2 separate regions of the Homo sapiens genome follow, and region 2 is linked to region 1. The links come from fine-mapping of genetic effects on gene expression. A gene starts in region 1. The other region holds a variant in brackets. All regions are shown on one strand. Distances are between the middles of the regions.

Region 1 (15,202 bases):
TGATAAGGTTGGAAAGTGGAATGGTGGGTAAGTCCAGGGATCTGGGCTTTATAAGTAGCCACACGTCTCCCCCAGCCCCTGTCATACATGGGGGTCTGCCCCGTGCTGAGACAGAGAAAAAAGAGGCGCGGGAATTTATAACCCAATGGCTCTTACCCATTGCAATGCCACTCCTGGAAGTCCAACCTCCCTTCCTCCTGCCTGGGTTCATACACCTGTGTCCTGTCTGATCCTCATTCCCACTGTATGGCTTCCCTTCCTGGTCCTGGGATAGGGCTCTTTATCCCCATCTGTGACAGCCAGAGGGGCTCTGGAGGAAACCAGGTTCCCGACCATGGTCTGACCTGACTGTGTTAATGAGCTGATTGATCTGATCTCTCTCTCTCTTGCTGGCTGTTTCATTCACGAGCTGGGGCTTTTTCTCTCCTTCCCTTATAAATCCCCAAGGCTCAGGGACAACTGTAGGTGGGGAGCGGGAGGAACTGGAGATAAGAAAGTGATAGAGCAGAGACAGTAGTTGTGGGGCCACCTAGGAGAGTCTGGGTATAGACAACATCCCCAGCCACTCCCCTTCCCTGAAGGAGGTCTCAGCTGCAGCAGGAGAGAAGGCTGCCTCTGCCTCTCTCCTTAGACTTCCCTTCTTCCCCCCTCATTTCCCTTCTAGACGCTGACAGAGGCAAAAATCTGCTAACTCAGGGGGCAGACTCAACCAAGACTGTGAGCAGGCCTGGGGAATGACCCCCCGATCTCCAACCAGTGCCTTCCGCAGCTGCACGGCTGTCTCCAGCTGTCTCTGCCCCTCTTCCTGGCCCTGGCTCCATCTCTCTGTCACCTCACCCTTCCCTGTGCCACATGGGCCCTCTCTCTCCTGCCAGGACGCTGCGGCTCTGGGGACCTCGGAGCCTGGGGGTGGCTCTGGGAGTCTTCATGACCATTGGCTTTGCACTCCAGCTCTTGGGAGGGCCCTTCCAGAGGAGGTGAGTTCCCACTTTGCCCCAACTCCTTCTAGACGCCCCGTACTTGCTCTTCCCCATCCCACCTGGGGCTGGTGACTCCTGAGGACTCAGAAGCCTCCATGCCCTCTGTCCCTTCTACCCATTTGCTGCTGAGGAACAGGACACTCCCCCTCCATCTCTTCCCAGGCTACCTGGGCTACAGCTCCGACAGCCCTCGGCCCCATCCCTACGACCAGCCCTTCCGTCCTGCCCACCCCGGCAGCGACTGGTGTTCCTGAAGACACATAAATCCGGGAGCAGCTCTGTGCTGAGCCTGCTTCACCGCTATGGGGACCAGCACGGGCTGCGCTTCGCCCTCCCTGCCCGCTACCAGTTTGGCTACCCAAAGCTCTTCCAGGCCTCTAGGGTAAAAGGCTACCGCCCACAGGGTGGAGGCACCCAGCTCCCCTTCCACATCCTCTGTCACCACATGAGGTTCAACCTGAAAGAGGTAAGGAGTGTCGCAGTGGTGGGAGGGACCAGAAACAGATGGGCTCAGGCTGACACCACCAAGGGAGGGGGCCCAGACCTGGGGGCTCCCCAGGCATCATCTCACCCTAAAGTTGGACATAGGGGCCACAAAGTTGGGCTCCCTGCCATCCTCTCTACAGGTGTCCCTTCCCCAGTAGTTTCTGGGAGCCCAAGTCCTCCTCCCTTCTCTCTCTGGCGCTTACTCCAGTCTCTCTCTTTCACCAATGTATTTCCCTGGCATCAGTGCCTTGCCAACTCTGAGCCCCCAACTCTCCCTCCAGGTGCCCCTTACTCTTCTGTTTTTAAATTATTTTTTGGAAGACAGGGTCTTACTCTGTCGCCCAGGCTGGAGTGCAGTGGCACAATCATAGCTCACTGCAGCCTTGACTTCCCAGGCTCAAGTGATCCTCCCACCTCAGCCTCCTGAGTAGCTATGGCTAAGGCATGTGCCACTACACGTGGCTACTTTTTAATTTTTTGTAGAGATGGGGTCTTGCTATGTTGCCCAGGCTGATCTCAAACCCCTGGGCTTAAATAAATAAATAAATAGTCCTGGGCTCAAGTGATCTGCTCACCTTGACCTCCCAAAGGGTTGGGATTACAGGAGTGAGCTTGCCCAGCCTGTGTGTGTGTGTGTGTGTGTGTGTGTGTGTGTGTGTGTGAGACAGGGTCTCATTCTGTCATCCAGGCTGGAATGCAGTGGTACAATTATAGCTCACTGTAACCTCAAACTCCTGGGCTCAAGCGATCCTCTCACCTCAGCCTCCCAACTAGCTGGGACTACAGGTGCATGCCACCACACCTGGCTATTTTTTTATTTTATTTTTTGTAGAGATGGAGTCTCACTATGTTGCCCAGGCTGGCCTCAAATGATCCTCCCACCTCAGCCTGGCAAGTACCTAGGACAACACGCCCCTTCCCTTTCTTAGCCTCCCTTTCACTGTCACACCAGGGCCCCACCTCCCCCACTGCCTTCTGACTTGTCTTCTTCAACCCCCTCACATTTTGAGGATCAGCTGTATTTTTAGCCCGGGACTAAGCCCAGCACTTTGGGAGACCAAGGTGGGCAGATCACCTGAGGTCAGAAGTTCGAGACCAGCCTGGCCAACATGGTGAAACCCTGTCTCTACTAAAAATACAAAAATTAGCCAGGCGTGGTGGCACACGCCTGTAATCCCAGCTACTCGGGAGGCTGAGGCAGGAGAATTGCTTGAACCCAGGAGGCAGAGGTTGCAGTGAGCCGAGATTGTGCCACTGCACTCCAGCCTGGGCAACAGAGCGAGACTCCATTTCACAAAAGAAAAAAAAGGCCGGGCGCAGTGGCTCACGCCTGTAATCCCAGCACTTTGGGAGGCCAAGGCGGGTGGATCACAAGGTCAGGAGATCGAGACCATCCTGGCTAACACAGTGAAACCCCGTTTCTACTAAAAATACAAAAAATTAGCCGGGCATGGTGGTGGGTGCCCGTAGTCCCAGCTACTCAGGAGGCTGAGGCAGGAAAATGGCATGAACCTGGGAGGCGGAGCTTGCAGTGAGCTGAGATCGTGCCACTGCACTCCAGCCTGGGTGACACAGTGAGACTCTGTCTCAAAAAAAAAAAAAAAAGGAAAGAAAGATAAATAAATAAAATTGAAAATTAAAGTGGCAGAGCTGGAAGTTGAGCCCAGGTCCATGCACTCCAAAGTCGAGGCTTCTTCCGAGGCTTGTGCATGTGTTTGTATCTGGAATGGTGAGAAGAATATTCACCAAAGAGGTGATGCTTTCTGGAGAGGGGGGTTTATTTTACTTTATTATTTAATTTTGATTTTTATTTTATTTATTTTGAGACAGAGTCTTGCTCTTTCCCCTGGGCTGGAGTGCAGTGGCACGATCTCAGCTCACTGCAACCTCTGCCTCCCGGGTTCAAGCAATTCTCATGCCTCCCAAGTAGCTGGGACTACAGGCACCCGCCACCACGCCTAGCTAATTTTTGTACTTTTAGTAGAGACAGGGTTTCGCCATGTTGACCAGGCTGGTCTCAAACTCCTGACCTCAAGTGATCCGCCCACCTCAGCCTCCCAAAATGCTGGGATTCCAGGTGTCAGCCACCGTGCCCAGCCGAGAGCGGGGGGTTTTAAAGGAAAAGGTGGATGTGGCTTGTGGTAAGGACAGCATGAGGCATTCTTAGAGGGAGCAAAACACCAGCAAGGACATGGTGGGGTGCACGTGTGTGTGTGCATGTAAGAGGGAGAACGTCTGTACTGGGGGTAGAAGTTCCACAGGGGCTGCAAAGTCACCCTTGTTGAAGCTGGAGCTGGAGACACCAGCTGAGGACATGGGCGTGCTCTGATGGGCAGCGAAAGGCCACTGCCAGGAGTGAGGCAATGACAGTGACCTTTGAGGTAGGTTTCTCCAGAGGCTAGGATGATGGCCTTCACTGACGCCACCATTCACTGAATACCTACCATGTTCCAGACACTTGCACATTCTTCCAGGTAAGTGTTACCCAGTTACTCAGATTTCTAGATGGAGGAATGATGGCTCTGAGACCTTCAATAACCCGCCCAAAGTCACAGAATTAGTAAATGGCAGAGTGGGATTTTATTCCAGGTCCAGATGCCAAAGACTGTTTTCTTCGCTTTCCCCTCTGCCTTCAAAGAGACCTGCAGGGCCAGGCATGGTGGCTCATGCCTGTGATCCGAGTGTTTTGGATGCTGAGGTGAGAGGATTACTTGAGCCCAGGAGTTCAACGCCAATCTGGGCAACATAGCAAGACCCCATCACTACAAAAAAATTAAAAATTAACAGGGAATGTTGGTGTGTGCCTGTAGTCCCAGCTATTCAGGAGGCTGAGATTGGGGAATCCCTTGAGCCCAGGAGTTTTCAAGGCTGCAGTGAGCTATGATATGCTGCCTAAGTGACAGAGCAAGGAGACACTGTCTCTTAAAAAATAGTAAGAAGAAAATAAACACTGAAAAGCTAAAATGCTCATTTCCTGTCCTCCCCCTCAAAAAAAAAAAAAAAAAAGAGAGTTCACAGGCTGCTATTCAGGTGTGCCATACTTGCAGAGCCGATTGAGGAACACCATGACAGACAGAAGTCAGATTCAATGATGGAAGTCATTTTTGGAGGCAGAAACCCTTCAAGGAGACTAGGAGCTAGGTTCTGACCTGCATCAGCCTGCAGGGCCACGTTAGGGTGTGGTGCAGCCTGATCTCCACCTTCATTCTTGCAGAGCGGTGTAATCACGTGTCCCAGCCCTCAGGGCAGCATCCTACCAGGCAGCCGTGGCTTCCCAGTGTCCCAGCCCAGGGTGTTTTTTGCCCTCTAGGATGCCCAGGAGACCCTGAAGTGCTTTACCCCTCAGCCATTCTGGGCCTGGCCTGCCCACCTGCTGCCTATGCCCGAGATGGCATTATAGTTGCTCCTTTGTTGCCAGTGATGCCCCCTCCCAGGCACTCAACAGGTTTTTGCTGGAGAAATGAGTACAAAGGTTGGTTCCTAGAGGTTTTACTGACCAAGGCAGACAGAAATGCCCGAGGAAATTAATGTTCTCCAGGAGTTTCCTATCCTCCAGGTTTCCGTCCCTCCCTTCTTTCTTTTTTTTTCTTTTTCTTTTTTTTCCCTTCCTTTTCCTCCCCTCCCCTCCCCTTTAAAATTAGTGCCCGGCTAATTTTTAAGTTCTGGGATACATGTGCAGAATATGCAGGTTTGTTACACAGGTATACATGTGCCACGGTGGTTTGCTGCACCTGTCAACCTGTCATCTAGGTTTTAAGCCTTGCATGCATTAGGCATTCATCCTCATGCTCTCTCTCTCTTCCTTTGCCCCTGACCCCGACAAGCCTCTCCTCTTCCCCCTCTCCCTCCCCTCTCCCCCCTCCCCTCCCCTCCCCTCCCCTCCTCTTCCCTTCCCTCCTTCCCTCTCTGGCTGCTTCTTTCTTTTTTTTTTTTTTTTGAGACAGAGTCTCACTTTGCTGCCCAGGCTGGAGTGCAGTGGCGCGATCTCGGCTCACTGCAACCTCTGCCACCCAGCTTCAAGCGATTCTCCTGCCTCAGCCTCCTGAGTAGCTGGGATTACAGGCGCCTGCCACCACGCCTGGCTAATTTTTATAGTTTTAGTAGAGATGTGGTTTCACCATCTTGGCCAGGCTGGTCTTGAACTCCTGACCTTGTGATCCACCCGCCTCAGCCTCCCAAAGTGCTGGGATTACAGGTGTGAGTCACTGCACCCGGCCCCTTTCTTTCAAGGCAGGGTCTTGCTGTGTTGCTCAGGCTTGTCTTGAACTCCTGGGCTTAAGCAATCCTACCACCTCAGCCTCTTGAGTAGCTGGGACTACAGGTGTGTACCAGGATACCGCGCTAATTTATTTTTATTTTAAGTTCTGGGATACATGTGCAGAACATGCAGGTTTGTTACATAGGTACACATGTGCCCTGGTGGTTTGATGCACTGATCAACACATCATCTAGGTTTTAAGCCCTGCAGGCATTAGGTATTCATCCTAATGCTCTCCCTCCCCTTGCTCCCCACCCCGACAGGCCCCAGTGTGTGATGCTCCCCTCCCTGTGTCCATGTGTTCTCACTGTTCAACTCCCACTTACTTATGAGTGAGAACACATGGTGTTTGGTTTTCTGTTCCTGTGTTAGTTTTGTTAGTTTACTGGAGTAGGTTAGTTTGCTGAGCATGATGATGGCTTCCAGCTTCATCCATGCACCTGCAAAGGACATTATCTCATTCTTTTCTATGGCTGCATAGTATTCCATGGTGTATATGTGCCACATTTTATTTATCCAGTCTATCATTGATTGACCTGCTAACTTTTTTAGTTTTTTTTTTTTTTTTTTTGAGACAGAGTCTTGCTCTGTTGGCCAGGCTGTCAAGTGCAGTGGCACGATCTCAGCTCACTGCAACCTCCGCCTCCTGGGCTCAAGCAATTCTCCTGCCTCAGCCTCCCGAGTAGCTGGGATTACAGGCGTGTGCCATCACACCTGGCTAATTTTTTTGTATTTTTAGTAGAGACGGGGTTTCACCATGTTGGCCAGGCTGGTCTCGAACTCCTGACCTCAAGTAATCCGCCCGCCTCGGCCTCCCAAAGTGCTGGGATTACAGGCTTGAGCCACCATGCCCGGCTTTTTAGTTTTATTTTTGTAGAGACAGGGTCTCGCTATGTTGCCCAGGCTGGCCTCGGCAACATAGCAATGCTCAAGCCATCCTACTGCCTCAGCCTCCTGAGTAGCTGGGACTACAGGCACACAAAACATGCCTGGCTCCATGCTCCAGATTTCTTGTATGTTTTATCTCATGTATCTTTCATAGTCACTTGAGAAAGTATGATTATCCCCATTTGCAGATAAGCAAATTGAGTCTCAGAGATGTTAAGTAACTTGCCACTCAGCAAGTGATGGAAGCTGGGGATTCCTAGCAGAGCTGGGAGGAGGAGGTTTCAGGAGGCTGGTCAGCGGACACATGGCTTGTGCATACTTATGCATACCTTCTCCCCAGCCCAGTTCTCTCTCTTCTGTCTTCCCTCCTCTGCAGGTACTTCAGGTCATGCCTTCTGACAGCTTCTTTTTTTCCATTGTCCGAGACCCAGCGGCTCTGGCTCGCTCTGCCTTCTCCTACTATAAATCCACCTCATCAGCCTTCCGCAAGTCACCATCTTTGGCTGCCTTCCTGGCCAATCCTCGAGGCTTCTACAGGCCTGGGGCCCGTGGGGACCACTACGCTCGCAACTTACTATGGTTTGACTTTGGCCTGCCCTTTCCCCCAGAGAAGAGGGCCAAGAGAGGGAATATTCATCCCCCCAGAGACCCCAACCCCCCACAGCTGCAGGTCTTGCCTTCTGGTGCTGGCCCTCGAGCCCAAACCCTCAATCCCAATGCCCTCATCCATCCTGTTTCCACTGTTACTGATCATCGCAGCCAGATATCAAGCCCTGCCTCTTTCGATTTGGGGTCTTCATCCTTCATCCAGTGGGGTCTGGCATGGCTGGACTCTGTCTTTGACCTGGTCATGGTGGCTGAGTACTTCGATGAGTCATTGGTTCTGCTGGCAGATGCCCTGTGCTGGGGTCTAGATGACGTGGTGGGCTTCATGCACAATGCCCAGGCTGGACATAAGCAGGGCCTCAGCACTGTCAGCAACAGTGGACTGACTGCGGAGGACCGGCAGCTGACTGCACGGGCCCGAGCCTGGAACAACCTGGACTGGGCTCTCTATGTCCACTTCAACCGCAGTCTCTGGGCACGGATAGAGAAATACGGCCAGGGCCGGCTGCAGACAGCTGTGGCCGAGCTCCGGGCTCGCCGAGAGGCCCTAGCGAAACATTGTCTGGTAGGGGGTGAGGCTTCTGACCCCAAATACATCACTGATCGCCGGTTCCGCCCCTTCCAGTTTGGGTCAGCTAAGGTTTTGGGCTATATACTTCGGAGTGGATTGAGCCCCCAAGACCAAGAGGAATGTGAGCGCCTAGCTACCCCTGAGCTCCAGTACAAGGACAAGCTGGATGCCAAGCAGTTCCCCCCTACCGTCTCACTGCCCCTCAAGACTTCAAGGCCACTCTCCCCATAAACATCAGACTACAGATTTAGGTGGAAGAGCAGCCATGTTTGAAGGGCACATGTGATGAGTGGGGGGCAGCAAGATGCCATTTCTGCATCTCCCAGAAGGGATGAGTCTTTGTCCCGATGCAAGCCCCCTCTTCGCTGGGCTCCCAGCAGTGCTTCCCTCCTCCACCCTCCACTCATTTTGTTCTTTCCCCCCAACTTTTTTTTTTTTTGAAACGGAGTCTTGCTCTGTCCCCCAGGCTGGAGTGCAGTGGCATGATCTCGGCTCACTGCAACCTCTGCCTCCCAGGTTCAAGCGATTCTCCTGCCTCAGCCTCCAGAGTAGCTAGGATTACAGATACGTGCCACCATACCCGGCTAATTTTTATATTTTTAGAGACAGGGATTCAACATGTTGGTTAGGCTGGTCTTGAACTCCTCACCTCAGGTGATCCACATGACTCTGCCTCCCAAAGTGCTGCCATTACAGGCGTGAGCCACTAGGCCTGACCTCCCCTTCCCCTTTCCTGCCCCAAGGCAGATCCACATCACCGAAGCTCCCTAGAGGGGCAAAAGATGGAGTGAGCCACAGGAAGTTTGGGGCGTGGTGAGTTGGAATGATACGTCCATTTCTCTATGAAATATTTGCTACTAGACTGTTCATTTCTCTCTGACATGTTTGTTGAATGAATAAATAATTTGAAACTTCTACTTGATTTATGGAGGGTGGAAAGGGGAGGGATGGAGAATCTTCCTGGGAGAAGTGGGGTTGGAAGGGTTGTTTTTTTTTTTTTTTCCGAGACAAGATCTCACTCTGTCACCTAGGCTGCAGTCCAGTGTCCCAATCATAGCTCACTTCAGCCTCAAACTCCTGGGCTCAAAGGATCCTCCTGCCTAGGCCTTCTAAGTAGCTGGGAATACAGGCGCGCGCCACCGCGCCCGGATAATTTTTAAATTTTTTGCAGAGAGGAGTTCTTGCTATGTTGGCCAGGGTGGTCTTGAACTCCTGGCCTCAAGCGATCCTGCCGCCTCGGCCTCCCACAGTGCTGGGATTACTGGCGTGAGCCAACCCGCCTGGCCGACGAGGTCTTCCATTTCTTTTCCAAGAAGCCTGGCCGCAGCCCCCGCCTGCATTCTCGCAGCCTCAGAGCAGCGGGACCCCGCCCCCTCCTCCACGGTCCGGGCACCCGCAGATTCCGGGGCCTCGGCGGCCACGCCCCCTCCCTTCCGCTTCCTGTTTCTCTCCAGTCATTCGGCTCAGTACCCCGGTTCCGGCGCTGCCGGGTCTCGGTTCGGGTTCGTTGCCCCGGTGCCGGGACCGGGCCGGTCTCTCCGGCCGCCCCAGCCGGGCGCAGCAGCCGGAGGTGTCGGGACCCTCTGGACCCACCCTAGCGGGCCCCGCCGGCGGTCGGCCTCCGGTCCGGGCTCCCAGTCGCGCCGTCCTCGCCGCCCCATGGAGTCCCAGTGCGACTACTCGATGTACTTCCCGGCCGTGCCGCTGCCGCCGCGCGCGGAGCTGGCAGGGGATCCGGGCCGGTACCGGGCGCTGCCCCGGCGCAACCATCTGTACTTGGGGGAGACTGTCCGTTTTCTGCTGGTGTTGCGCTGCCGGGGCGGTGCGGGGTCCGGCACCGGGGGCGGCCCGGGCTTGGGCTCCAGAGGAGCCTGGGCAGAACTGGCAACCGCCCTGGCCGCCCTGGCCTCGGTCAGCGCCGGAGGCGGGATGCCGGGGGGCGGCGGCGCCGGCGACCAGGATTCGGAGCCCCCAGGGGGAGGGGATCCTGGGGGTGGGGGTTTGTTCCGAGGCTGCAGCCCCCTTCTCACCCACGGCCCGGGCCCTGCTACCTCAGGGGGAGCGACCACGGTGAGGAGCTTTGGGGGACCTGGCACAGGACGGAGGGGCGGTTTGCTGGGGGCCTGAGGCAGGAGGCAGATGAACTGCCGGTCTTAAAGGGAAAGGCTGCAGGCTGCCTCTGACTTGCTCCTGACCTCTTCACCCCTTTCCCAACCCCAGCTGCCTGTGGAGGAACCGATTGTGTCCACAGATGAGGTCATCTTCCCACTCACCGTTTCACTGGATAGACTGCCCCCAGGGACACCTAAGGCCAAGGTAAGATGAGCAAGAGTGGAGCTATTGTCCTAATTCAGACACCTTTTCCGGGCTCAGCCATCTGTCTTTCCTCTTGACAGATTGTAGTGACTGTGTGGAAGCGGGAGATTGAGGCACCAGAGGTCAGAGATCAAGGCTACCTGCGATTGCTGCAGACCCGATCTCCTGGGGAGACATTCCGGGGCGAGCAGAGCGCTTTCAAGGCCCAAGGTGGGCAGGGCAGCGCAGAGGCAAAGGGCTAGAGTCTGGGAATTGGGGGACAGAGGGGAGGGGTCACACTGGAAAGTGGCTAATGGGCTCTGAGAAGAGGAAGGTGAGAATTCTGGGTTGGAGGTGAGGTCAGCCTCCAGACCATCACTTCTTGCCCCCACCCCCTCCCGCAGTGAGCACGCTGCTGACTCTGCTGCCCCCTCCGGTTCTGAGATGCCGGCAGTTCACTGTGGCTGGAAAACACTTGACCGTGCTCAAGGGTAAGCAGGGCTGCCGGCTCCAGCCTCCGGGAGCAACAAGGGAACTGATTGGATGCAGTTCCTCTGGGCAGGCTGGTGGGGTAGGTCCGGTTTTTTCTGGGTAAAGGTGGGGCCTGAGGGGTCCAGCTATTCTGAGCCAAGCTGGTCCTCTCCCACAGTGCTGAACAGCTCCTCTCAGGAGGAAATCTCCATCTGGGATATCCGAATCCTCCCCAACTTCAACGCCAGTTATCTACCTGTCATGCCCGATGGCTCTGTGCTGCTGGTGGACAATGTCTGGTGAGGTCCTGGGAGGGGCGAGGCTGTGAAGTGGTGGGGATGGCTTCAGGGGCTGAGCTCTGGCATGGGGAGACCATGCCTTGTCCTCTTTTCTGAGCTAGTCACCAGTCTGGGGAAGTCTCCATGGGCTCCTTCTGCCGCCTACCCGGGACCTCTGGCTGCTTCCCCTGCCCGCTGAATGCCCTGGAGGAACACAACTTCCTGTTTCAGCTGAGAGGGGGTGAGCAGCCCCCTCCAGGGGCCAAGGAGGTGAGCATAAGGGGCTGGTGTGTTCAAAGAAAAGTGATAAGGCAGTGGGAGGGAAAGACCAGGCAGCTGACTCAAGATGGGAGGGGCACTCTTAATACCTGTGCCAACCCCCTTTGTCCCTCCTGCAGGGCCTGGAAGTTCCCCTGATTGCTGTGGTTCAGTGGTCTACCCCAAAGCTGCCCTTCACTCAGAGCATCTACACCCACTACCGGTGAGTGTGGATCCTGGAGGAATCGTGGCGTTCGCCTTTGTGGCCTGACACACACAGCCAGCATCCCTCTCTCACCACTCCTAGCCTGCCCAGTGTCCGCTTGGACCGCCCGTGTTTTGTGATGACCGCTTCTTGTAAGTCCCCTGTTCGGACCTACGAGCGTTTCACTGTCACCTACACGCTGCTTAACAATCTCCAAGACTTCCTTGCTGTGAGGCTCGTGTGGACCCCAGAGCATGCACAGGCTGGTAGGTCAGCTGCCAGGTAGGAATTTGGTCCCCAGGGAGGGGAAGAGAAAGGAAAAAGTCAGGGAGGCAGGACAGTGAAAACAGCCAAATTTGGTGCCAGCCCCATCACAGGAGGCGACTTGTGGCAGGTGGCTTCCGCCCTGTACCTGGGTGGTCTCCCCAGTGTCCTAGATGGAGAGTTTAGAGAGGCAGTGGGGCAGAGTGACTTTCAGGGCATAGACACTGGAGCTGCACTCGCTGGTGTGAACTCTACTTCTCTCCTTTACTAGCTGTGTGACCTTGAATAAGTTACTTAACCTCTCTGGGCCTCAGAGTCCTCACCTTTAAAATAGAGCAACTCATATCTGATGGGGCTGTCATGCAGATACTGAGTTAATATACGTGACGTGCCTTGCACACAGTACGTATTAGCTGTTGTTATCTACAACATGCACAAAAGATAACGTTTGCTCAGTTTACTCCACAGAGTGGCTTTGAGAATCAGATGAGACTGTGCTGGCGAAGGCCCTGTGGGAATGAGGAACGCTGTAGTGTTTGCTGGTCCCTGTTTCTGCCCCCAGGAAAGCAGCTGTGTGAGGAGGAGCGCCGGGCCATGCAGGCTGCCCTGGACTCCGTCGTCTGCCACACGCCCCTCAACAACCTTGGCTTTTCCCGGAAGGGCAGCGCGCTCACCTTCAGTGTGGCCTTCCAGGCTCTGAGGACGGGGCTCTTCGAGGTGGGCTGGGGAGGGTCTGGGCTGAGTGCTGAGTGATGCAGAATGCTGGGGTGGACGGAGGCAGGACCCTTAGATTTTGGGGATGAAATAAAAAGCTGGGCAGAGGGAAGGTGGGATTTAGATTTGACATCAGTCTGTCACATGGGGAAGACCATTTGGAAGGAGGCCTGGGTCCTGGAAGCCGAGCTGGCATGCTGACCTGTGTCTCCCCCCAGCTAAGCCAGCACATGAAACTGAAGCTGCAGTTCACCGCCAGCGTGTCCCACCCTCCACCCGAGGCCCGGCCCCTCTCCCGCAAGAGCAGCCCCAGCAGCCCTGCTGTCCGGGACTTGGTGGAGAGGCATCAGGCTAGCCTGGGCCGCTCCCAGTCCTTCTCCCACCAGCAGCCTTCCCGAAGCCACCTCATGAGGTACAGAACCAGGGGGCGTGGCATGGGACCGGGTAGAGGATGGGAGCAGCGAGGGTGCCGGGTCTGACCAGCGCCCACAGCCTCTGCCTTCCCCCAGGTCGGGCAGTGTGATGGAGCGCAGAGCCATCACGCCCCCTGTGGCCTCTCCTGTTGGCCGCCCCCTCTACCTGCCCCCGGACAAGGCTGTGTTGTCTCTGGACAAGATTGCCAAGCGCGAGTGCAAGGTCCTGGTGGTGGAACCCGTCAAGTAGCACCGTGCCAGCTCTGTTCCCTCTTACACTCCAGAGACCCAACGCCCCCAGAGGGGATCCCTGCTCCCGGGCTGTGCCTCCCCTGGGATGCCTCCCAGACGGGGGTGAAGAGGCCTGGCAGAGCTGCCTGTCTTGTGTCTGCTGATGAGGGATGGGGGAAGAAGCTGTGAAGTGGGCGGGCATGGCTGGGACTAAGCCACCAGTATTCCCCGAGTTCCTGTGGGGGGGGCTGGCCCCACCCCTAGGCCAGGGCAAGGGTTCCCAGAGCTCCCTTGTCCCCGGCCCTTTACCCTGGTTCTGAGTTTACAAAGTCTCTTCCTCATTCCCGTTGAGTTCTTTCCCACCTCTGACATTCCCTCCCTCCCTCCCGCAGGGCTGAGATTAGAGGGTGGTGATGGCTAAGGGCCCCTGACAGTGACCTTCCTGTCTCAGGGGTTGGGGACAGGGCCAGGTAGCCTCCTGCCCCTTATGTTTACGTTTGCAGCCTGAAGCACTTTAATTTTTTTTTTTTTGGTCTGTTCCTGTAACTTATTTTCCAACTATTGCTTCCAACTGAAATAAGACTATTAAATGCCTGTTCAGGAGGGAGAAGGATGACTAGTTTGTGTACTGATGGGAAGAGCAGAGGTCGCCAGGGCTCAGGGTGACTCCCTTCCCCTCCAGCTTTTTCTGCTTCCCAGTTTTATAGCACACAGAGGTGGCCCTGCCGCACCCAACTTGGGCTAAGGTGCATGACTTTCTCCCCAGAAGGTGGAAGACAGACATGGGGTGTAACCATTCCAACACTAAACACACATGTCCCTGGGCTGGAGAACATCAGACTCATGTTTATTAGGGAGTGAGGGAGCACAAAGGGAGGTCTCCTTGCCCTTGTTCTCCTTAACACAGCTCAGAGTCCCCAAGCCTGGGCCCGTCCAGGTAGGGGTGGGAGGTGGGCGAGCAGAAGGCCCTAGTTCTAGCAGCAAGCCAAGACCGACAGGTGTGCCTGCCTCATCACAGAGGCCCAGGACCCAATCCGCTTCTCCGACCCTCGCCCTCCGGCAGGCTCAGACATCAATGGGCTCCCGACCTCGGTTCTGCCTCTTCACCACAAACACCCTCTGTCCTGACACCGTCACCAGCAGTGTGTGTTCTCCAAAGACCACTGGAGGAGAGACACACCTTCCCCCGCCCCAGGAGAGGGAAGGGAGCACAGAGTTAGTGGGTGCAACAGACTCCATGGGGCGGGGCCACACGCACATTGGCTGGGATCAAAGCCAAAGAAGTTCTATAGTTCCAGGCTCAGAGATTTGAAGATGAGTGGCCTCTGCTAGATCTCCTTTCTCTTGCCTTCTCATTCACAATTCTGATACCAGGGAGTCCCAAAGGGAGGAAAGTGGCCAGACCAGAGACCCCAGGAGATGGTAGGAGGCTGGAAGAAGAGAAGCCGAGAAGCCCCTGGAAGTAGCCCCCCGCTCCCAGTACCACCACCAAGGGCAGGGGCAGGGGCTCACCAGACAGGCGCTTGAAGGGCACATTCATGCCGCGGTGCAGCCGGAAACCGCAGGCTGTGCTGACCAGCTCAGAGATGGCACTGGCTGCCTGCTCATCATTCTCCAGGTCCCCAGATGACTGCATGCAGACGGAGGAGGGAGAGGGGCGGGCATTACGGCACAGGCTCAGGAAGGAATTCCAGGCACAGTCCCCTTGGTTCTCACACTTAGACCCTCTCCCCCTTGGCTTGCCAGTACCCTCAGCTTTGGAAAAAAACAACCTGAAATCTCCCCCTATAATGTTGTCACCCTCCGGATGCCATCCTGTTTCCCATAATACTGGCCTTCCCCGGATGAGCAGTAACTTATCCATCTTTTTTTTTTTTTTCTTTTTTGAGACGGAATCTCGTTCTGTCACCCAGGCTGTAGTGCAGTGGTGCAATCTCGGCCTCTCGGGTTCAAGTGATTCTCCTGCCTCAGCCTCCCAAATAGCTGAGATTACAGGCACGTACCAGCACCACCACATCTAGCTAATTTTTTATATTTTTAGTAGAGACGGGGTTTTACCATATTAATCAGCTGGTCTCAAACTCTTGACCTCAAATGATCTGCCCGCCTCAGCCTCCCAAAATGCTGGGATTACAGACGTGAGCCACCGTGCCTGGCCATCCATCTCTTTATTGACCATGCTTTTCTAACCCCATAAAACTGGATTTCTCCCATGTCCCTGCCTATTTGATAAAGCCACATTCTCCAAAATGAATGCCTGCCCACCACTTACCTGTTAATGGCT
Region 2 (15,202 bases), 38 kb after region 1:
ACTCCGTCTCAGAAAAAAAAAAAAAATGTAGCTGGGCACGGTGGCAGGCACCTGTAATCCCAGCTACTCGGAAGGCTGAGGCAGAGAAGTGCTTGAACCCAGGAGGCGGAGGTTGCATTGACCGAGATCGAGCCACTGCACTCCTCCAACCTGGGCAACAGAGTGAGACTCTGTGGAAAGAAAGAAAGAGACAGAGAGAGAGAGAGAAAGGAAAGAAAGAAAGAAAGATAATAATAGTACTTAGCTCAGAGCTGCGATGAGGAACAAATAAGTTAATGGATGGGGCTGGGCACGGTGGCTCACGCCTGTAACCCCAGCAGTTTGGGAGGCTGAAGGCTGAAGTGGAAGGATCACTTAAGCCCAGGAGTTCCAGGTCACAGTGAGTTTTGATTGCACCACTACACTCCAGCCTGGGTTACAGAGCAAGACTCAGTCAATAATAATAATAATAATAATGTACAGAAAGTGCTTAGAGCAAGTAGAACTGGTCTGCTCTGTGAGCTCTTAGGATCTCACTTCAGGCATCTGTTGCTGTTTCACCCCGCCCTACTCTGTGCCAGAGGTTGTCCAAGGTGCTGGAGGTCCCAAGCATAGGAGAGCCAGGCAGGTGTGGCCCCATCCCATGCCCATGGGAGCAATCCGGCTGCTGAAAGAAAACAGATATTAAATCATCACACTTGGGGAAGGGCACAGTGGCTCATGCCTGTAATCCCAGCAAAAAAAAATGCAGAGGGCCTGAGAAGGTAGGATCTTTTTAGGTCAGGAGTTCAAGACCAGCCTGGGCAACACAGTGAGACCATTTCTGAAAAAAAATGAAAAAAAAAAATTAGCTGATAGCCAGGCATGGTGGTTCATACCTGTAACCTCAGCACTTTGGGAGGCTGAGATGGGCAGATCACTTGAGGCCAGGAGTTTGAGACCAGTGTGGCCAACATGGTAAGACCCTTTCTCTACTAAAAATATAAAAATTAGCTGGACATGGTAGTGTGAGCCTGTAATCCCAGCTGCTGGGAAGGCTGAGGCACAAGAACCAATTGAACCCAGGAGGCAGAGGTTGCAGTGCAGTCTGCAGTACAAGATTGTGCTATTGCATTGCAGCCTGTGGGGACAGAGTGAAACCGTGTTTCAAAAAAAAAAAAAAATTAGTGGGGCATAGTGGCACTTGCCTGTCATCCCAGCTACTTGGGAGGCTGAGGCAGGTGGATGGCTTAAGCTGGAGGCTGCAGTGAGCTATGACTGCACAACTGCACTCTAGCCTGTGTGACAAAAAAATATGAACAAATACATAAGTCAGGTGACTAAGGGGTCATCTTTATGCCCTGTACCTTCTCTCAGCAACCTCCATCCTATAAGAAAGGGGCAATTGGCCAAAGTATGCCTCTGCTGTAGTTGTAGATTACCATGTTTGCACGATTATCATTGTCAATGCTTCACATTTACACTAGGGCACTATGATTTTCAATGCAGTTTCCATTTTTATTTTGGAGGCCCCTCCCACGAACCTTCTCCCATTTTACTGAGGCCCAGGGAGAATGCACAGGGAGCTGAGCCCCTCCTTTGATCTTAGTTTGGTGGCAGAGACAGGCAGTGATACTGACGATGTGATGGCAGTGTCAGGTGCACTCTGTCTTCACTAGAAAACTGGCCTCCTGGAAGGGCTGGAAGCTCCCACCCTTGACTGCTCTGACTCTGTCTCCAGCAGCTCTTCGCTGTTAGGGCTTCCCTGACAAGAGTGCAGTCCCTCTCGAGGCTGATTAGTGCAGGGCGGGCTCCTCGTCTCCGACCACCGGCTCCTGCTGGCTGTTCCCTCCACCCTCCGTCTCGGGCTGCGAGGCTTCCCTTAACACTCGAAAGGGGGGCCCGTGACCAGGTACGACCACGTCGGCAACGACCAGGACCCTCTTCCGGCTCCGCTCCTGGGCTGCGGGGTCTTCACTCAGTGCCTGCCACGAATCCTCGTCCCCATCTCGCTCAAACACATCTCCCGCCACCACCACGGTGCCCAGAGCCGTGCCGGCCACCACCACGCTCACGTCGCGCTGGCCCCCGTGGCCCGGCGTGGCCCACACCTCGAGCCCCGGGCCCAGGCGCAGGGGCTGCCCCTCACCCAGCCCGTGGGGCAGGTAGCGGCCTCCGGGAAGGCAGAAGTCGTGCGAGACCAGCAGAGCCGCGCCTGGGAACAGCCCCAAGTTCCCGATGTGATCCGAGTGCCCGTGGGTCCCCACCACTAGCGTCACGTCTCCCGGGGCCACGCCCTGCCCCGCCAGCGCCCCCAGCAGCGCCTCCCGAGCCCAGGGGCCCCCGGTGTCCACCAGGATGGGGCCACGGGCCGCCTCCTCCAGGGCGGCCTCTGCGCCGCCACTCCCGCGCGGGGACTCTCGGTGGCTGGAGGCCGGGCCCCGGGTCTGGGGTAGGACCAGGGTCACGGAGCCGTCGGCGCGCACGGCATCGCCCACACCCTCTGGCTCCGCGTAGCCCTGCAGCAGAACCACCACAGAGTAGGGGTCGCCGGGCACCAGCAGAGGGGATGCCCCGCACAGCGGCTCGGTCCGCATGAGGCTGCTCCTGGCAGGGAGGGACGGGCTGGGGAGAAAGGAAATGGAGCAGTGGGCGACCGTCCTGTCCCTCCGCGATCCCCCACCCGCGCTCGGCCCCGCCACTGCCCCTAAGCCTCGGTTCTCTGCCACCCGCCTCCCATTAAGTTGGTATCACCCTCAACCCCTGCCCAAAATGGTATCGCCCAGACTCCCTTCACACTTGGGCCCGCCCCTCCCTCGGCGTCCTCGGCCCCCGCCCCATTCCGTTCGCGGTACGTACGTCCTTGCCCGTCACCCTCCAAAGGCTATCCTTTATGTTTCCCTCCATCGAATCCTAGCCGCGCTCTACCTTGGGCCTCTGCTAGGTCTTGCCTCACTCGAAGAAAGCGCAGAAATCGAAAACGCGGGTGAGAGTTTGTCCTCTGCGGTTCCCGTGTACCCAGATATGGCGGCCGAAGCGGCGCCGCGGAGGTAGCTGTAGTTCCGGCGCCTTCACCGTGTGCCCGAGGAGGCTGCCTGGCTGGGCTCCAGCCTCCTGGCGGTTCTCCGCTCCGCAACCCCAGCAACTTCTTTGCACTGCAGAATTTTGAAGCGCCATTAGCTTTGAGGAGGGTTCATGCTCAGTTGCCCAGGCAGGAGTGCAGTGGCGCGATCATACCTCACTGCAGCCTCAACCTCCTGGGCTCATGTGATCCTCCCGCCTCAGCGTCCCGAGTATCTGGGACCACAGATGCGCACCACCAAGCCCAGCTAAGGTTTCTATTTTTTCTTTCTCTTTTTTTTTGGAGACACGGTCTAGTTCTGTTGCCAGGACTGGTCTGGAACTCCTGGGCTCCAGCGATCCTCCAGTCTTGGTCTCCTGAAGTGCTAGGATTACAGGTGTGAGCCACCGCGCCTGGTCTTTTTTTCTTTTGAGACAGTCTCGCCCTGTCGCCCAGGCTAGAGTGCAGGGGCACCATCATAGCTCGCCCCAGTCTTGAACCCCTGGTTCTAGCGATCCTCCTGCTTCAGCCTCCTGGAGTGCTGGGAATACAGGCGTGCACGCCCCTCTAAATTTTTTTTGGTTTTTTTTGAGACGGAGTCTTGTTCTGTCGCCCAGGCTAGAGTGCAGTGGCGTGATCTCAGCTCACTGCAACCTCCGCCTCCTGGGTTCAAGCGATTCTCCTGTCTCAGCCTCCCGAGTAACTGGGATTACAGGCGCCCACCACCATGCGTGGCTTTTTTTTTTGAGACGGAGTCTCGCTCTATCACCCAGGCTGGAGTGCAGTGGCACGATCTTGGCTCACTGCCAGCTCCGCCTCCCGGGTTCCCGCCATTCTTCTGCCTCAGCCTCCCGAGTAGCTGGGACTGCAGGCGCCTGCCACCACACCCGGCTAATTTTTTGTATTTTTAGTAGAGACGGGCTTTCACCGTATTAGCCAGGATGGTCTCGATCTCCTAATCTTGTTATCCACCCGCCTTGGCCTCCCAAAGTGCTGGGATTACAGGCGTGAGTCACCGCGCCCAGCCGCCCGGCTAATTTTTGTATTTTTGGTAGAGACGAGGTTTCTCCATGTTGGCCAGGCTGCTCTCGAACTCCTACACTCAGGTGATCCGCCTGCCTCGGCCTCCCAAAGTGCTAGGATTACAGGTGTGAGTCACTGCGCCCAGCCTCCAGGCTGGTCTTGACCTTTTGGACTCAAGTGATCCTCCCATCTCCACCTCTGCAGTAACTGGGACTACAGGCGCTGCACCACCAGCCCTGCAGTCTTCTTTGTGTGTGTGTGTGTGTGTAGAATTGGGGTTTCACTATGTTGCTCAGGCTGGAGCTTGAGCTTAACAAGACAGCGGCCATTCTGGGTGCTGCCTCATCGACCAGCTAGCTATGTGTGCCCGGCTGTTGTTTGAAACTTTGGGCCCAGCTAGTTTTTAGAAAAAAAGAAAAAAGTTTAATAGCGATATAGAAAATTGAGCACCTATAAAACTATATGGTGGGCTCTGGGTTACATTGAGCTTAAGTAGACCAAGTATCTATCCCACCTAAATTATCAGCAACTCCAGGCCATGACCCAGTGTCCCATTCTCCTTCACGGTTTGCTGGTGTGTAGCCTCCTGGATACAGGCAATGTATATAGATCGCAGAGAATGTCCGTTCTGGCCTCTTCCTTGGAAGGGTCTAAAAACAGACCTTAAGGAGCTAAGTGACTTCCCCAAAGCCCACAGCTCCAGTGCCACTGCTGACTTTTGGGTGGGGGTGGGATCAGTTAAAGAGGAAAGCTTTCAGTACTGTCAGCACATACACCTGCCAATTAAGGGGCTGGATAGAGTTCATCTCTAGGAGCAGGACCTCCACCCCCACCCTCCACCCCAGAAGCCATGTCATGCTGTTTCACCAGGATCTTGCCTGAGGTTAGATGGGAGAGAACAGCTACAAGCTTGGGTGGAGTCACTCATAAACACACCCTGAAAGCTGTGGAGCAGGGAGAGTGCAGGCTTTAGAGGGCTCTCCATGATCCCTTCCCCTCCTGGGGGCTCAAAGGCAAGGGTCAAAGATCTTCTCGGTCAAGTTTGGGGTGGCTTCCTGTCTTGGTCATCTTGTCTCCCCCTTCCTCTTCCTCCTCTTCCTCCTCCTCCTCCTGCTCTTCCTCCCCTTCTGTTTTCTCTTCCCCATCTGTGATCTCCTTTCCAGTCCAAGTTTCCTGTAGACATGCTAGATCGGATGACAGAAAACAATTTAGATATTAGTCCTGGAGGCAGGGGAGGCTATGGCTTGGCAGGAGAGGAGTTCAACCCTTACGCTTACCAGTTTCAGCAGCTGGGAGCACATGACCTTCACAGAGAAAATTTTGTAGGGGCTGCTCCTGATGGTGGAAGTACCAGTCTCCCACAATGTCTTCAAACTCCTCCAACATGGTCTCACACTGGTCAAGTAGAAGGGCCAGAAGAGTATCTGCTCTGGAGGGATTTGGGATCCCGCCTGTCTTCTCTCCCTGCTCAACCTGACTGATTTTGGAGAGGCAGGTAGCCAGGAAGCTAAGTTTGGCCTACTAGATGTGCAATCCTCATTCATTCAACAAACATTTACCAGCACCTATTCTGCCAAGTAGATTATTAAACTCTTGAGTCTCAGCTCCTTGCCTGTAAAATATGTATGGTAATTGCACCTACCACATCAGGCTGTTAAGGGTAAAATGAGGCTACAGATGCAAAGTATCTGGTCCAGAGTCTGGGACACAGTAGGTGCTCAATAAGTGATGGTGGATATCATTAGCAACCATTGTTACTTTTTTTTTTTTTTGAGATGGAGTCTCGCTCTGTCACCCAGGCTGGACTGCAGTGGTGGGATCTCAGCTCACTGCAACCTCCGCCTCCCGGGTTCAAGTGATTCTCCTGCCTCAGCTTCCTGAGTAGCTGGGACTACAGATGCATGCCACCACACCACCACGCCCGGCTAATTCTTGTATTTTTAGTAGAGACAGGGTTTCACTATGATGGCCCGGCTGGTCTTGAACCCCTGATGTCGTGATCCGCCTGTCTCGCCCTCCCAAAGTGCTGGGATTACATACGTGAGCCATCGCACCTGGCCCATTATTACTTTTTAAAAATTTTCCTTAAGGCAGGGCCCAATGGCTCATGCCTGTAATCCCAGCACTTTGGGAGGCCAAGGCGGGTGGATCACCTGAGGTCAGGAGTTCGACCAGCCTGGCCAACATGATGAAACCCCGTCTCTACTAAAATTACAAAAAATTAGCTGGGCGTGGTGGCAGGGGCCTGTAATCCCAGCTACTCGGGAGGCTGAAGCAGGAGAATGGCTTGAACCCGGGAGGCGGAGGTCGCGGTGAGCCGAGATGGTGCCGGTGCACTCCAGCCTGGGCAATAAGAGTGAAACTCCGTCTTGAAAAAAAAAATTCTTTAAAATTATTATTATTTGTAGAGAAGGGGGTCTCTTATGTTGCACAAGCTGGTCTCTAACTCTGGTCTCAAACAGTCCTTCTCCCTCAGACTCACTAAGTGCTAGCATTACAGTTGTGAGCCACTCCACCCGGCTCATTATGATTTCTTTTTTTTTGTTTTTGTTTTTGTTTTTTTTTTTAAGATGGAGTCTTGCTCTGTCGCCCTGGCTGGAGTGCAATGGTGCGATCTTGGCTCATGGCAACCTCCACCTCCTGGATTCAAGCAATTCTCTTGCCTCAGCCTCCCAAGTAGCTGGGATCACAGGCGTGCACCACCACGCCCAGCTAACTTTTGTGTTTTTATTAAAGACGGGGTTTTGCCTTGTTGGCCAGGCTGGTCTCGAACTTATGACCTCAGGTGATCCACCTGCCTCAGCCTCCCAAATTGCTGGGATTACAGGTGTGAGCCACCGCACCCCACCGCTCCTGGACCCACTTTAATCAATGGCACAGTCCTCACTCTG[G/C]CCCCTTCCCCATGCTTAGGGGTAGACATCCCCTATAGTCAAACCCTAGAACCTAGCTCCCCTCTCAGGTTCCCTTCTCACCTCCCTGGATGGTGCAGTGTCTTATCCTACCTGCTTCTTGAGGTATGTGACCTCCACGCTGGGCTCATCCCAAAGCTCCAGAGGGATCCCCAGATCCACCTTCACCCCCTTCTGCACTAGGCCTTTCAGTGTTGCCATGGTCTGACTCTGACCCTGAGAGATTAAGAATTTGGCATCAGCCCAGCTCACCACCCCACCCCTCCCTTCCCCTTTCTGCCATTTCAGTTTTGTCAACTACTGGAGATTCAAGGGTGAGTTCCATGATGGTGAGATGATGGGCAGATAACCTCTGGAGGGCCTCAGGGGATACAGATCTTTGTATCTGAGAAGTGGGGTCCTGCCCTGGGGAAGGGTCTGACCTTGGCATATCTCAGTGAGCCCTTGCGCTCAGCGTGAACACTATAGTCCAGGATCCGCTCACATAAATTCTCTAAGGCCTCTTCCAGCCTTGTCTCTCTGTGGAAAGAGAGGAAACAAAGATTCCCTGGATGCTGTAGGAACTCCCAGGGCTCCGTTGGGGGTTGGAAAGGGGAGGAGCACGAAGGACTCACGAAACGCTGTAAGGCACGTGTCTCTTCCTCTTGCCTGTATCCAGCACCTGCCCCAGCTCCAGCACCTCTCGAGATCGACCGGTGCGACTCAGTTCCGCCTGTAGCTCTGTGCTCAGCAGCTTACACACTGGTGGGGAGGAGAAACGTCCGGGGGGAGGTAAAAGACAAACACACCAGCCATTCATTCTGCAGATGACCTGAGGCAGCAGAGCATACAAGTGCAGACTATGGAGCCAGACTGGCTGGGTTGGAATCCTGGCTCAGCCATTTAGCAGCTGTGTGGCAATCTTCCTGCTTGCTGTGCCTCGGTTTCTTCATCTTTTTTTTTTTTTTTTTCAGACGGACTCTCGCTCTGTCGCCCAGGCTGTAGTGCAGTGGCGCAGTCTCGGCTCACTGCCAGCTCCGCCTCCTGGGTTCACGCCATTCTCCTGCCTCAGTCTCCCGAGTAGCTGGGACTACAGGCACCCACCACCACGCCCGGCTAATTTTTTGTATTTTTAGTAGAGACAGGGTTTCACCGTGTTAGCCAGGATGGTCTCGATCAGCTGACCTTGTGATCCGCCCGCCTTGGCCTCCCAAAGTACTGGGATTACAGGCGTGAGCCACCACGCCCGGCCGGTTTCTTCATCTTTATAATGGGATAATAGGCCAGGAGTGGTGGCTCACACCTGTAATCCCAGCACTTTGGGAGGCTGAGGCGGGCAGATCACTTGAGGAGTTCAAGACCAGCCTGGCCCACATGGTGAAACCCCATCTCTATTAAAAATACAAAAACTAGCCAGGTGTGGTGGTGCGCACCTGTAATAGCTACTCGGGAAGCTGAGGCAGGAGAATCACTCGAACCCAGGAGGTGGAGGTTGCAGTGAGCTGAGATCCCACCACTGCACCCCAGCCCAGGCAACAAAGGGAGACTCCATCTTAAAAAAAGTAAAATACATTAAAAATAAATAGGCCAGCACAGTGACTCATGCCTGTAATCCCAACACTTTGGGAGGCTGAGGTGGGTGGATCACGAGGTCAAGAGATTGAGACCATCCTGGCCAACATAGTGAAACCTTGTCTCTACTAAAAATACAAAAATTAGCTGGGCATGGTGGCGGGCGCCTGTAATCCCAGCTACTTGGGAGGCTGAGGCAGGAGAATCGCTTGAACCCGGGAGGCGGAGGTTGCAGTGAGCGAGATTGCACCACTGCACTCCAGCCTGGGCAACGGCATGAGACGCTGTCTGAAAAGAGAAAAAAAAAAAAAAAAAAAAAAAAAAAAAAAAAATATATATATATATATATATATATATAAAATTAATACAATTGGATAATAATAGTATGTCCCTCATAGGAGTGTGATGAAGATTAAATAAATCAACATATATAAAGGCTGGCACATAGTGAGCACTGTATAAGTATTCACTGTTATCCTGCAGTTATTTATTGAGCTCCTTCTGTATGCATACTAACAATATAGACAGCAATAAGACCTATTATCTCTATCTACAGGTCTCTGTCAGTGTAGTTGGGACAGATAAACCAAGGATGACAAGCTGTGGTGAAGCTGGGCCTGAACTCATGGGCTCAAGTGATCCTCCCACCTTGGCCTTCCAAAGTGCTGGGATTACAGATGTGAGCCACTGTGCCCAGGCCCGTTGGCTGTATTCTGATAGAAGGCCTGCAGAGGTGTTAAAGCAAGGACTGATACAATTAGGTGATTAAGTCTGTTTAAAAAGATTGACAGGTCAGGGGAGAAGAGCGGCACACGGAGGTGAAAGGAGACAGAGATGAGGACCAAGTCATGAGACTGTCATGACTGCCTTTCATGATACTGGAATACAGTTGAGGGGGTGAAGCGAAGAGAAAAGGAATCCAGGGAAGAAACGTAAAGTCAGGAGGGCAGCAAACTAGGGCATCAGGGCCAGCCCCCTTTCTCAACTGGGCCCCACGCTAGTGCAGCTATGGAAGGCGCTGCTTGCTGAAAAATCCATATAGTACGCACCGTCTGCAAAGTCTCACCGGATGGGGACACTCTCCTAGTTGTGTGGCTTCCTTTTGTTTATGAGCTTCAAAGGCTGAATTACTCACCCTCAAACCCCCTCAGCGGGGTGTGGGGCCTGTAATTTGGGAGCGTCTATGCTAGGGTAGGGCAGCGGATGTCCACAAGGCCTGAGCCTCACACCCGGCTCCTGCAGCCTCTGCAGATTAAGGTCTGGTGACATGAGGTAAACACTCACTGAAGATGCTCTAAAAGTTGGCAGTCCCGGGCCGATGGTCCCTGAACTACAATTCCCACAATCCATTGGCGGGCGGGGGGTTCCAAGCCAGCCAAAAAAATGCAGGCTCTCTCTGGATGCAGTTTGAGGTGGCACTACACGTTCGCTTCCTTGACCCCATCCAAATTCAGCCAAGCTCCACCAGAACCTCCCTCAAGCCTTCAAGGAGGTCGGGTGACCCACCCAATACAGGCTAGGATGTCCGGCCTAGAAGAAGGAGGTGTGGCCGGGCGATGCCTATAGGGGCTACCCCCTTCAAATACCTTCGCATTTGCTGGGCAAGCGTTCTGTGTCATCGTCCTCCTCCTTCAACATCCCAGCCCAAGCCTCGTGCACGGCCAAAAAAAGGAAAAGCAATATTCCCAACCGCACAGGTCCCATGACAAAGCGCCGTCTACAAACAATCACCGCTTGCCTTCAACTTCGGGAAGGTAGTGTGGGTCCCTTAAATTCCCAGGCGGCTAGCGGCAACCTTAAATCCAGCCGAGGAAGGTCGGCGCATGCGCAGGATCAGCCCAACAAGGGTGGGGCCTCGTTGCTACGGGTTTCCCTGCCTCCGTTTTGTGGCGCCTCTTGAAGGTCCTGGCAGCCGGGTAGTGAAGGAATAAATTGCAGTAATTACACCAAGAGGGAGTGCTCCTTATATATAGATGTAGAAACAAACTTTTAAAATATAATTTCATTCTGCGAGCCTAGAGGACTTATTCTGGTACGGGGAAGGGGCAGTGACTTGCTCTTAGGCTCTGCCAGGACCTGCTCCCACGAGGGGGCGGGGCCAAGATGGCGCCGAGCGCCGGGTGAGCAGCGTCTCGGCTGCCGCTAGAGTTTTCCTGCTCCCCGCGCTCGGGTGGCGGGGGCGGGTCTGAGTGGTACCCCGGAGGAGACCCTTTGAAGGTCCCTTGTGGGGACTGGAAAGAGGACGGTTGGTTGTGTGTCTGTGCTCGTGGGGACCCCGTGTGTGTGCCTGCATTGGAGAGATGTTGCAGGAGATGGGGTGGGCTCTCTGAACCTCCTTTCGCGCTGCCCGGGGATCTTCGACCTGCTTCTCTGCTGGGATCTCGCTTAAGTTAACCCTTCCCTGGGACGCCTTCCTGCCGCCTCCACTGATCTGAGGAGATCCTGTGACTGTAGCGTGTTTTATGAGCCTTTACTGGCAGAGGGTACCGCCGGGTATTGAAGGATTCGTAGGAGTTCGCCAGGGAAGTGGGACACGACCCCCTCTTGTAAACCCGGCGCCAGGCACAGAGTATGTCTCGAATAGTTGTGTTCCCTATAGATAAGACTTATAAAAGTCGGGGAGGAGATCAGGGATGGTTTGAAAAGAACCAATTTGTTTTTCGGCCTCCCTCTTCCCATCCTTCCAGCACGGCCCCACCCTACCTGTACTACTCCTAAGCAGTATTGATATGTTAATCTTCCTAATGTCCAACTGCAAGTGTGCCACTTTAATTTTTTTTTGTTTTTTTTTTGAGACAGGGTTTCCGTCTGTTACCCAGGCTGTTGTGCAGTGGCACCATCTTGGCTCACTGCAGCCTCCAACTCCTCAGTTCAAGCGATCCTCCTGCCTCAGCCTCCTAAGTAGCTGGGATGACAGGTTCACACCACCAGGTCCGTCTAATTTTTTAATTTTTGCAGAAATGGGGGTCTCACTATGTTGACCAGGCTGTCTCAAACTCCTGGCCTCAAACAATCCCCCCACCTCTGCCTTCCAAAGTGCTGGGATTACTGGGGTGAGTTACCTCTCTTGGCTCCAATTTGCTTTTTTTTTTTTTTTGAGATGGAGTCTCTCTCTATCGCCCAGGCTGGAGTGCAGTGGCACGATCTCGGTTCACTGCAACCTCCGCTTCCTGGTTCAAGCGGTTCTCCCACCTCAGCCTCCCAGATAGCTGGGACTACAGGCGCCCGCCACCATGTCTGGTTAATTTTTGTGTTTTTACAAAAAGACAGGGTTTCACCATGTTGGCCAGGGTGGTCTCGAACTCCTAACCTCAGGTGATCTTCCCGCCTTGGCCTCCCAAATTACAGGCGTGAGCCACTGCACCTGGCTCCACTTTGCTTTTTTTGTTTTTTTTTTTTTTTTGAGACAGAGTCTGGCTCTGTTGCCCAGGCTGGAGTGCAGTGGTGCGATCTCGGCTCACTGCAAGCTCCGCCTCCCGGGCTCACGCCATTCTCCTGCCTCAGCAGCCTCCCGAGTAGCAGGGACTATAGGTGCCTGCCACCATGCCTGGCTAATTTTTTCTATTTTTTAGTAGAGACGAGGTTTCACCTTGTTAGCCAGGATGGTCTCAATCTCCTGACCTAGTGATCCGCCCGCCTCGGCCTCCCAAAGTGCTGGGATTACAGGCGTGAGCCACCACGGCCGGCCCAGTTTGCTTTTAACTACAGTGTAGGCTCAAAGCTTGGGCCTATGACCTATTAATAATAGTGATACCAAGTATTTACTGAGCACCAATATCTCTAAGCCTTACAACTAATTCATTTACTTCACAAATATTTATGATGTCCCAGGCTGGGCTCCTGGAATACATCAGTGAACATAATAAAGAGCTCTGTCGGCCGGGCACAGTGGCTCACGCCTGTAATCCCAGCACTTTGGGAGGCCAGGGTGGGTGGAACACCTGAGGTCAGGAGTTCAAGACCAGCCTGAGCAACATGGTGAAACCCCATCTCTACTAAAAATACAAAAATTAGCCAGGTGTGGTGGCGCATGCCTGTAATCCCAGCTACGCAGGAGGCTGAGACAGGAGAATTGCTTGAATCTGGGAGGCGGAGGTTGCAGTGAGCCAAGATCGCGCCATTGCTCTCCAGCCTGGACAACAAGAGTGAAACTCTAGCTCAAAAAAAAAAAAAAAAAAAAAGAGCCCTGTCTAGATGGTGGACGGAGACGGGGTCTCACTCTGTTGCCAGGCTGGAGTGCAGTGGCACAACCTCTACTCACTGCAACCTCCACCTCCTGGGTTCAAGCAATTCTCCTGCCTCAGCCTCCCGAGTATCTGGGACTACAGGTGCACATCACCACGCCCAGCTAATTTTTGTATTTTTAGTAGAGATGGGGTTTAACCATGTTGGCCAGGATGGTCTCGATCTCTTGACCTCGTGATCTGCCCACCTCGGCCTCCCAAAGTGTTGGGATTACAGGCGTGAGCCACTGCGCCATGCCCAAAAGATGTTAAATGCTATGGAAAAGAAAAAGTGGGCTGCCCCCACTCTGAGGGCAGAGTGCAGAGTTAAATAGGGTGGTCAGGGTAGGCAGCCAATTAGATATTTGGGAAGAACATTCCAGGCAGAGGGAATGCAGCAAAGGCTATTAAGCAAGTACATACCTGGCAAGTTTAAGGAGCAGCCAGAAGGAATGTATGTGTCTGGATCAAAGTGGAAGAAGGAAGGGCGTTCAGAGATATAATGGGGAGAAGGTAATTTTGAAGGGCTTTGTAGGACATTATAAGGATTTCGTCTGTTTTTTTTGTTGTTGTTGTTGTTGTTTTTGAGAAGAAGTCTTGCTTTGTTGCCCAGGCTGGAGTGCAATGACACAGATCTTTGCTCACTGCAACCTCCGCCTCCCGGGTTCGAGTGATTCTTCTGCCTCAGCCTCCCGAGTAGCTGTGATTACAGGTGCCCGCCACCATGCCCATCTAATTTTTTTATTTTTAGTAGAGATAGGGTTTCACCATGTTGGCCAGGCTGGTCTTGAACTCCTGCCCTCAAGTGATCCGCCCACCTTCGTCTCCCAAAGTGCTAGGATTACAGGCGTGAGCCACTGTGCCTGGCCTGAGATGGGGTTTTGCTATGTTGCCCAGGGTGGTCAGGAATTCCTAAGCCCAAGCAGTCTTCCCACCTCACCCTCCCAAAGTGCACAGATTACAGGCATGAGCTGAGCCACTGCACCTGCCCATTATAAGGATTTCAGGTTTTACTTTATGGCAAGTGGAGAGCCATTATGAGGGTTTGAGCAAAGAAATGACAATCTGCTTTACAGTTTGACAGAAGCATTTTGGCTGCAACGTTAGGAATAGATGTAGAGAAAGGCAAGGGTAGACTCCGGTTGACATTGTTAGGAGGTTTTTGGAGTTACCCAGTGGATAGATGATGGTGACCTGGGCCAAGCAGTGGGAGCAGAGGAGTCAGGTTGGACTACCTGGTGGATTGATTGATTTTTGAGACAGAGTCTCGCTCTGTCGCCAGGCTGGAGTCCAGTGGCACGATCTTGGCTCACTGCAACCTCCACTTCCCAGGTTCAAGTGATTCTCTTGCCTCAGCCTCCCGAGTAGCTGGGACTACAGGTGCGTGCCACCACGCCAAGCTAGTTTTTGTATTTTTAGTAGAGATGGGATTTCACCATGTTGGCCAGGATGGTCTCCATCTCTTGACCTGGTGATCCGTCCGCCTCGGCCTCCCAAAGTGCTGGGATTACAGGTGTGAGCCAACGCGCCCGACCGGATTTATTTTTTTACCTTTTTTTTTTTTTTGAGACAGAGTCCATCTGTCACTGAGGCTGGAGTGCAATGGCGCAATCTCAACTCACTGCAAACTCTACTGCCGAGGCTCAAGTGATTCTCCTGCCTCAGCCTCCCAAGTAGCTGGGATTACAGGCACGCGCCACCATGCCCAGCTAATTTTTGTATTTTTAGTAGAGAAAGGGTTTTACCATGTTGCTCAGGCTGGTCTCGAACTCCTGACCTGAAGTGATCCACCCACCTTGGCCTCCCAAATTGCTGGAATTACAGACGTGAGCCACCGCACCTGGCCTACCTGGTGGATTTGATGTGAAGGCTCAGATAAAGAACAAGTGTCTGGATGGATGGCATTGCTATGAAGATAAGGAAAGCTGAGCCTGGGCCAGACACTTCGGCTCACGCCTTTAATTCCAACACTTTGAGAGGCCAACGCTGGAGGATTGCTTGAGCCCAAAACTTCAAAGTGGTGGGATTGAAGCCCTGAGGTGTAACAGAAAAAGATAAAAATCTGGGCTGGGCCTGGTGGCTCAGGCCTGTAATTCCAACACTTTGGGAGGCCGAAGCAGGAGGACTGCGTGAGCCCAGCAGTTCAAGACCAGCCTGGACAACATAGTGAGACTCTGTCTCTGCCCCTGCCCCTGCAAAAAATTGGCTGTGTGTAGTGGTACACACCTATAGTCCCAGCTACTTGGGAGGCTGAGGTGTGAGGATTGCTTGAGCCTAGGAGCTCCTGGGCTCTATCAGTTTTCCCACCTCTGCCTCCTGAGTAGCTAGAACAACAGCCCTGTGCCTGCATACCCAGCTAATTTTTGTATTTTTTGTACAGATGGGGTCTCACTGTGTTGTCCAGGCTGGTCGTGAACTGCTGGGCTCAAGCGATCCTCCTACCTTGGGCTCCCAGAGTGTTGGAATTACAGGCATGA

What was found. PIP is the estimated chance that this variant, and not a neighbour inherited with it, causes the effect.
Region 2: its variant is fine-mapped to the expression of TRAPPC14 in whole blood (INTERVAL, PIP above 0.99).

The regions. Positions count from the first base shown.
Region 1 is chr7:100,152,746-100,167,947 of GRCh38, reverse strand. It overlaps TRAPPC14 (trafficking protein particle complex subunit 14), which reads left to right and starts at 9,225. Exons shown (of 11, transcript NM_018275.5): 1 at 9,225-9,859; 2 at 10,010-10,105; 3 at 10,186-10,315; 4 at 10,489-10,575; 5 at 10,734-10,854; 6 at 10,956-11,103; 7 at 11,232-11,314; 8 at 11,399-11,562; 9 at 12,123-12,277; 10 at 12,493-12,686; 11 at 12,784-13,525. The coding sequence starts at 9,449. The coding sequence ends at 12,937. GAL3ST4 (galactose-3-O-sulfotransferase 4) reads left to right here. Exons shown (of 4, transcript NM_024637.5): 2 at 665-977; 3 at 1,143-1,446; 4 at 6,989-8,704. The coding sequence starts at 853. The coding sequence ends at 8,020. It overlaps MIR4658 (microRNA 4658), which reads left to right and starts at 11,279; the gene lies at 11,279-11,343. LAMTOR4 (late endosomal/lysosomal adaptor, MAPK and MTOR activator 4) reads right to left here. Exons shown (of 4, transcript NM_001008395.4): 3 at 14,431-14,548; 4 at 13,745-14,081. The coding sequence ends at 13,984. RefSeq lists an enhancer at 7,145-7,644 and silencers at 9,091-9,730, 9,761-9,910, 9,942-10,118.
Region 2 is chr7:100,114,749-100,129,950 of GRCh38, reverse strand. CNPY4 (canopy FGF signaling regulator 4) reads right to left here and starts at 10,317. Exons shown (of 6, transcript NM_152755.2): 1 at 10,089-10,317; 2 at 7,566-7,692; 3 at 7,374-7,470; 4 at 7,045-7,167; 5 at 5,320-5,437; 6 at 4,443-5,226. The coding sequence starts at 10,206. The coding sequence ends at 5,063. It overlaps MBLAC1 (metallo-beta-lactamase domain containing 1), which reads right to left and starts at 2,984. Exons shown (of 2, transcript NM_203397.3): 1 at 2,887-2,984; 2 at 1,456-2,583. The coding sequence starts at 2,555. The coding sequence ends at 1,755. TAF6 (TATA-box binding protein associated factor 6) reads left to right here and starts at 10,593. Exons shown (of 15, transcript NM_139315.3): 1 at 10,593-10,747. RefSeq lists silencers at 2,075-2,554, 2,645-2,764 and enhancers at 2,965-3,034, 3,745-4,414, 9,621-9,690, 10,061-10,280, 10,491-10,640. The variant G/C (reference allele first, on the strand shown) is at 6,934.